2 linked regions of the Homo sapiens genome follow. The protein of the gene in region 1 purifies or fractionates together with the protein of each later gene. This does not show direct contact. Each region holds a gene or a part of one and is shown on either strand. Other genes may lie near its edges.

Evidence for each region. The genes of interacting proteins can lie anywhere in the genome.
Region 2: the proteins of SERPINB11 (region 1) and SIL1 purify together in Homo sapiens (affinity purification with mass spectrometry, with the first as the bait; one large-scale study listed by BioGRID). This does not show direct contact.

Annotation. Positions count from the first base shown.
Region 1 is NC_000018.10:63,701,477-63,706,136, reverse strand, and holds the start of SERPINB11 (serpin B11), read right to left. Parts: upstream 3,178-4,660; 5' UTR 3,131-3,177; intron 1-3,130. UniProt on the Homo sapiens protein: Has no serine protease inhibitory activity, probably due to variants in the scaffold impairing conformational change.
Region 2 is NC_000005.10:139,020,127-139,024,042, reverse strand, and holds part of SIL1 (nucleotide exchange factor SIL1 precursor), read left to right. Parts: intron 1-2,750; coding exon 2,751-2,872; intron 2,873-3,916.

The sequences.
Region 1 (4,660 bases):
CAGCACAGTGTAATAGGACCCAGTAGTTATACAGCACCAAGCCTGGACCACAGTTTTCTTTGCTCTTGACAGTTTTTAAAAAATATAACAGAAGGGTTTTACTCATCTTATTTTGCTAAAATACAATTCTGTACCTTTGACAGGATGTTTTCCTTTAAGGTGATTTTAATACAGCTCTCTGTATTATGTGTGGTAATAACAGTGTCTTTGACAGCCCTTTGTTTAGTTACTTTAATAATGAAAGCACTTCCAATCGTGAAGTATATCCAAGTCAGTTGCTCTTCACACTATGTTCTGCATTTTAGTGAATTAAGTAAGCTAGTGGAGTTGCATTCTGGAAAGTAACGTGAATTTATTTATCTTAAATTTATGTCCTGTTGTTGTTATAAAATCGCCTATTCACATATCATAACTATTGTAGCCCTGCAGTTACTAGAGCACCTAAGAAAAGAGTTTGGAATACACTGATAGGCCACTTATTGTGTGCCAGACACTTTTATTAGTCTGTTTATTTGATTGTTTCTTCTTTTATAACCACAAGTACACAAGGTTGAGGTCATCACATGCTCTGGTTCTTGGCATAAGCCATGACTGGATTAGAAGGCCATTCTCTTCTTTACTTATGGCCTTTGACCCAGTTCATTTCCTTTCTTCTCCACCACCATAGACACCACTTATAATTTGTTTAAAGCATATTCTTTTATGTATATGTGCTCCTGTAAAACATTGATTTCTTTATCTTACGCATTTTTAAATTTTCATAAATGAAGTTATGTTAGATAATACTTAACATCAGCTTTGGGAGGCGGAGGCAGGTGGATCCCTTGAGCCCAGGAGTTTGAAGCCAGCCTGGGCAACGTGGCGAAAACCCCGTCTCTACAAAAAAATTAAAAACATAGCCAGTCACAGTGGCACACACTTGCAGTCTCAGCTACTCAGGAGGCTAAGGTGGGAGGATTGCTTCAGCCCAGGAGGTCAAGGCTGCTGTGAGCAGTGACTGCACCACTGTACTCCAGGCTGGGAGACAGAGTAAGACCCTGTCTCAAAACAAAACAAAGAAAAACAAAAAAATACAAGTTTTCACATACTTTTCACCTAGTACTATATTTTTAAGATTCATCCATGTTATTCTGGGAATATAGTCCGTACCTTCTAACTGTTGCATTCTTCTGCTTCCACCATATTAATTTGCCCATTCATTTGCCGATGGCAGATGCCCAAATGGTTTCCTTCCTCATGCCACCACAAACAGTGCCATGATGAATATCAGCACACCTACTCCCTTACACAGCTGTGTGAGAATTTCTTTGTAAAGGAAATGGCCAACTTACAGGGTTCATGTATGTGCCAGTACTATATGTGTATTATTCAGAATCTTGAGTCTTGCAGGGTGAGTGATGATGTTCGCCTCACTTCACAGTTGGATCTTACAGCTCTTCAAGCATTGAACTCATAGTACCAAGAAAGAATACTTCAGGTTCAGGTTTTTCTCAAAAATCATTGGCAATACATAATTATAGTTAATTCAAATGAACTTTGTATTAATGATAGTTTGAATTAGAATAATTCAAATTCTAATCAATAATATTAAAACTCTGTCTTGCCAATAGACATGCTAAATATCAAATGAACTTTGTTTCTTGGCAAGACAGAGTTTTAACTATAGTATTAATGTAGTGCCAAAGTGCACGGGCTTTCCTCATTCATTTTCCAAAATTCTACCTTTCTGTTTGCAGAGATCTTTCACAATGGAGTTTCTATGTTAACCATATATTTAACTAGTTTTATTGACAATTCCCTCTACATCTGGGTGATTGTCTTTTCATGTGCAGAGGTGTGTATGGATGGATTTATAGATTTTGGTTCATTTAATATGTTGGTATTCCTCACTACATTGAACATTCTGTAAGGGCAGAGAAAATTCTTCTGTGAAATTGTCAGTGTCTTCCACATTCACCCAGGAATCAATACTTGTTAGGGAAACCAATATTCTGGATATTTTACAGCTAGTCTAATTAATGTTGCTTAGCCCATTTCAGGGAAGCAGAACTTATGGAAGGCAGAAGTCCCAAGTCACCCAGAATTTTATCAAAGATGCATATGGACCCCCAAAACAGCCCACTCACGTGGTAAGGGAATGTTGGCTGTGTCTTGGAAAAAAAAAATCTTCAAGCAAATGAGTTGTGTCATCTGGAAGTTGTTATGACAGAAACGAAGAAAAGAAGGATATCTGTCACTGTAGCCCTTTGAGGTTGAGAAGAGGGATTTCCAGAAGAGACAACTCTATTTGGGATACGTGTGGAAGGGAACACATCTTATCTTATCTGAAGGGATACTGACACTGAAGGACTGCAACAGACGGAGGGTCTGGTTCTGTCCTTTTGGGGGAAATACATCTCCAAGGGTGGCTAAGACACCAGTATCTTACAGTATGTACCATACCCTGTGTACATTCTTCCCCTTTCACAAGACTCTTCTCTCATGACCACTTATCTAGCACCTACCTCTCTTTCCCTAAATCAGAGCTATTCTTTTACTCTTACTCTCTGCCCTACAACTTTGTGAATTTCACATATGCTCATTCCTAAAAATAGTAGGAATTTCAGAATGTTCACATAAACATAAACCATTATATTTTACCTGCATGTACAGAATACACATATTACTTAGGAGACTAATTTTAAAGCTATAAGAGGAAACTGAGAGGCAGAAAAAGAAAGAAATTGTCTCCAACACATAGCAATTAATAAGGCTAGCATAGTAAGTTAAGATCTTCTAAGGAGCTAAGAAGTGTGTCAATACACAGAGGCCACAGCATGCATGACTAGCTTGTGTTTTGAATGAAGATTAGTAAGTAGAAAATATCAACGGAGTTCCATTTTACTAAACAAAGATCTGAAATCAAGTCAGCCTGCCTCAAAGATTTTTAAATGCACACTATCAATGGCATCCAAGTATGCTAATGTATTTATCAAGGGGTCAGCAAAAGTCATACTCAATTAAATAATAAGTTGCCCCTTCATTTGGTTCATTATGCAACCTGTCCAAATGCCACAGTTTACTCTTATTTATTGTCCCCTTTGACAACAAGCACAGCTGAGATAATAACGTACAGAAACATTTCTCTTACCTTTGTTGCTTTCCAGTAGTGAAGTTCACAGAGTGGCAAGTTAGACTGGAGCTGCGTCCCTCAAAAGGAAATATAAAGCCTTCATATTTTGCCCCTCCCTTTTCATTTGTGCCCTTAGTGATTCAGCTCTTCACCTGCTGGTTGGAAAGTACAGCCCTGAAAATGAAGTCCATCAAGAGCTTCTTTAAATCCCCAGAGCCCAGCATGGTGGCTCATTCCTGTAATCCCAGCACTTTGGAAGGCTGAGGTGGGAGGGTTACTTGAGGCTAGGAGTTTGAGGCCAGCCTGGGCAACATAGTGAGACCCTGATCTCTATTTTAAAAATTAAAAAATAAAAATAAAATTTGTAATGAGATCCCCAGAGACTCCCAAGATGACCAGTGCTTTTCAGAGAAGTGCTCAGTTCTTTTTCTATTTATTTATTTTGAGATGGAGTCTCACAGGCTGGAGTGCAGTGGTGTGATCTCAGCTCACTGCAACCTCTGCCTCCTGGGTTTAAGCAGTTCTCCTGCCTCAGCCTCCTGAGTAGCTGGGATTATAGGTGTGCACCACCACACCCAGCTAATTTTTGTATTTTTAGTGGAGACAGGGTTTCATCATGTTGGTCAGGCTGGTCTCAAACTCCTGACCTCGTGATCCACCTGCCTCAGCCTCCTAAAGTGCTGGGATTACAGGCGTGAACGACCATGCCCGGCCCTGCACCCAGTTCTTAACCTCCTTCTGTTTTACTAAGGGAAAACATTAACAAGCCTGGCCTCTATTCAAGAAAAATACGCTGTCTGTCAAAGAGATTGCCATCAACCCAACAAGTTAGCAGTGCCCTATGCAAAATTCCAGGGATCTCCAGTGTCAGTGCACATGGTGCAAAGCTACTCAGTAGGAAAGATCCCAGCTGTGGCAGATGCTTCCTGGCCTGAGGAACACTCATCCCAAGATCTTCTGGGCTCTCTTGCATGCAGCATATGTTTTTATGTGGAGTTTCAGCAAACTACTAGCAGGTAAATCCTGTCCCACAAAAAAACACAAGAGTTATCGAGTTAGTAATAACTCAAGCAAGAGTTATTCTGTGGTTTCAGTTTAAAAGCTTGGTGGGAGCAAGAAGCCAGCCCTACCTAAAGTGAATTCAGAGGCTGAGTAATGATTCAGGAGCCAGGAAGAAAAATTACAGATTAGAGGTAGGAATGAGAGTTAGAGACAGATCATGTTTGGGGTGTGCAGTAGGCAGAATCAGTATTACGAGAAAAGCCCAGCTTCTCAAAGACCAGTCTTGACCATGCAATCCACAGTCCAGCCTCCCCAGGTTGTTACCCCTGCCAACCAATGATGGCAGACTGTACCGCACTCAAGACAAGAAATTCCTTTATGGCCAGTGATTTTCTCTTCATTTTCAGTGCACAATATTTCTTCTCTTAGTTGAAACTAAACCGTTCTACAAGACAAGAGAACCAGAAAACATGGTTCTAAAATTATAGTCCTAATACCCATTTTGCCCACAAGGTTATCATAAAAATAACTGTACACAACCAATCA
Region 2 (3,916 bases), on another chromosome or scaffold:
TCCCTTGTAGGCTCTTTGTCACTTGGCAGTGTCTTCCCTAAGGTGACATCCCCATTCTGCTTTCACAGGCCACCTCACCAGACCCATCCTGAGGTCATCCCAAAATCAGTCCCTGGCAGAAGCCAAATTTGTCTGTTGGCAGAGAAATGTTCTGGATCATTGGTGTTTTGACTGGAAGGGCTGGTGCATCAGGCTGCCATGCAGCAATGTTAAGCTGTGATTTCACTGGGGGATTAAGTAAGACACAACTCGGCCCGAGTCCCAGTTGTGATGGGGGCTTGGGGTGATGTAGTACTAGTTTTAAGGAAGATGGCACTTTCCTAGCCAGGAACTTCCCCAGTCCTTTCTCATTCCAGACTCACTGAATGGTGGTTTGAGGAGCTGTAGGCTCCAAGGACCCAAACCAGGTCTGCCAGGCTTCCTCACAGCCATATTTGAATTATTAAACAGGATATGTGAAAAGCAAAACCTTGTGTGTGGAAACAGATGGTGAGTTATTTATGAGGAGCGGCCTCCGTCCGCCCCATCTACCTCGGGCAGTACATTTGCCTTCTCCCACGTGTCTCCTCAGCTGTGTGCCACCATTTTTCCCCTTCGCTGTTTCCCATTCTCTCATTGTCTTATCAGTGCCCTGCTTCTTTCCTTTCCTCCAGGGTGTTGGCATAGTTCCCTCCTGCACTCCCTCCTCCTCTTCCTCTCTGCCTGTCCCACCCCACCCCGAAGGCAGCCTGAGAACAGTTTTGGCCCCAGACCGAGATGGGGAGCTGTGGACCTGGGCTATGGTCATGGTTTCTCCTGTATGTCACCAGGGGGGGGCCCAGCTTTTGATGTGCACTGGGCAGAATGAATCGTTTCTTCCTCACTGTTAGTGAAGTAAACCATGAGAAAACATCCCAAAAAGGCTGAAGTGCTTATATAAATGTCTGCATTTCTATCATGCTGAATTATCATTGTAGTAATAGTAGATAAACTGACTCTAGAACAGAAGGTCCATGATTCTGGGCTGTGTTGCTTTGGAGCTGACCGAGTGGCAGCTGCTCTGCTAGGAACTCATACCAGCTTTATAAGTGGCCATTCCAGGCGTGGTATGACAGGATTCTGAGCCATAGTTTTGTATCCAGAAAACCCAGAGGAAGGACAACCAAAGAATAGGTAGTGAATTCTTACATTGTAAAATTAGAGCATGTAGGGAAGGAAGGAAGGTGCTTATGTCAGCAAAGCACCCAACCCTGAGTCTCCCTAGTTAGCTGGGCTGTGGCTCAACCAGTTATTCCTCTTCATAAGAACAGTTTGGGGCAGAAAAATGTCCATGGCCTGGGGCCACATGGCAGAGCAGACTTCATGCTTACTTCACAACCTGGTTTAGCCATTACTTCATGTCTGCGGTACCAGAGGCCCATTCATTTTGTTGGCACAGATACCCCAGATTGCCTTTTTATTCACACTGGAGCTTTATTTCAGGAACATTCTTTTCTGATCAAATTCATACTCATTAATGCAACAGTTATTCATTGAACACCTAACCATATGCTCAGCACCATCCTAGTCCCTGGAGCTACAAGCGTGGACAGACAGACAAAACCCCTGCTGTCATGGAGATTCCATCCAAATGTGTATGAATATGATTTTTCAAGTGGCAACAACAGGCTAGGCCACCACAAAACACTAGCACAGTCAAATACCAATCCTCACACTTGATTTCTCTGTCAGAGTCCTCTCCTAGTTCAGAGAGGCAAGGATGCAGTTGGGAAGGGGCCCTGTGGAATCTGGAGGAGAAAGATGGGTAGCAGCCACAGTTGTTGGGCTTCAGCTTCCTGAGTTTTCCTCATGATTGATAGCGTGGGATTAGCATATGGGCAAGATGCAGCCTTTGTGGCAACAAAGATATATTCGAGGGAGACTGTAGCGGGTACATGTAGAAAACAGGATCCAGTGACCTTTCTGAGGAAAGCGAGTTGTCTTGTTCCAGGGTACTAATAAACTGTGGGTAATGAGATCCGCTATAGAGTAAAAGAGAGAATCCGGACTTGGGGATTTGGAGCTTAAATGATAGCCTAGACCAATGCTGTTGAATAGAACTTTATGTAATGATAGAAATGTTCTGCACTGTCTGATACATAGCCACTAGCCAGTAGCACAGGCTTAGACAGAAACCTTTGGGAGAGCGATTTTCTTGCATATTTTATCATGAATGTCTTCAGATGCAGTCAACCTGAGATGCAAGAGAAAGGTACTATTGTTATTCCCCCCTCCCCAGCACTCTTACGGCAACCCCCCTCCCAATAACAGGGCTCCTTTTATAGTCCCTAGCTTCTAATTTAAAATCAGCTTTAAAAATCTGCCTCCACTGTCCCCATTGGGATTGGACATCAGCAGGAAGCATGGCACCATTTAGTGGTGCTGATGACGCCAGATTCTTTGTGTTAACAGCTTGTACATTAGGAGCAAGCTTTGTGACTCATTATGATATTAGAATTTTCCAGGACATGTTTGGCATAAGCAATAGCTAGGTGTCATTTCTGCTGATTCCCACGCAGGTGCTCATCAATCGTGTTAGATGAATTAGGAGTTCTCAAATTTAAGAGTATTAAAAAATTGGTTTTTACAAACCTTTTCTTAGTCAAAAAGGCCATTATTGATTTTTCCATGGCTTTTTAATTTGTTTTTGGGTAGTCACCAAAAGAAAGGCTCTAAGAACAGCTTTCCTGTCCCTGATGGCTATGCTGTACTAAGCAGTGGCTCTGTTGCAGATGGACAATGCGCAGGACCTGCTTTCCTTTGGTGGTCTTCAAGTGGTGATCAATGGGCTGAACAGCACAGAGCCCCTCGTGAAGGAGTATGCTGCGTTTGTGCTGGGCGCTGCCTTTTCCAGGTGAGCAGTATAATGGACGTCCCAATGGCCAGAATTGCTTGGCCTGATCTGCTTGGAAGAAGGGTACACTTGAATGTGCCTGTTGCTACTGACATTTCAGTGTCATCTCAATGAAACTAGAGTAAAATTTGATTCTGCCCTTATTCCAAGTAGATAGGAATTTTTACCCATGTTGTCACCATCTGTGACTCTCTGTTCCCCCATCTTATGTGTATGGACATTTAATAACACATCTTAGGTCACATTCTCTGTTTTATTCAAAGCTTGTAAAAAGTTAGACCAACTATAAATAGTAGAGAGGGAGGGGAATAAACAAGAGTAGGTCTTTTGGCAGTAAAGCTACATCTAGTGACGAATAAATGATGAGCCTGACCAAGGGGGTGCTTTCAGGGAGGAATGTGTCTTGCCCTAGTTGTCTGGAACCAATGTACATGCCGTCAGATTATCGCCCTCTCTAGGTTGGAAATTGTTGAGAATTTCAGTTAGTCTGGCTTGTGATGGAAGACTGATAAGGCAAGAGGAGTGGGGAGGTAGCATCTCGAAAGAGTAGATGCCAAAAGATATGTAGGCACCACATCATTCTACACCACCTGCAAAGGTCAAGATATCTGCATGCTGCAATTGGTCCATTGGAGCTATTGTTCCTCCCATTTTTGAAAATCTGCTCTTAGGACCATTTGTGCCTTTAAAACAGGAACAAATATTCTGATTCTTGCTGCAAGGGCATGGGTGGAGGCTATTAGATGCTTAGATGCAGGTCACGATGTTACAGGAGAAAAGCTATTCTGAACATATTTACCATTATAGGCTTTGTTTCGAGAAGATTTCCTTTGTGCTTTATCTGTGCTTGTTTTTTAAATCAGAATCTCAGTCTGATGCTCTCTCACTCTGAAAGGCATTCAGCATATTTTCTTAGTAAGTTGAAGGGCAGAGCTGGGAAAGCTGGAGGAGTTGTTCCATGAGGAGAGGCACTGCCGGCCTTTGTTTCCGTTATCACCACTCTGCCTGGATCTTCAAGCCCTGGCTCCCTGTGTTGGTGGTGTT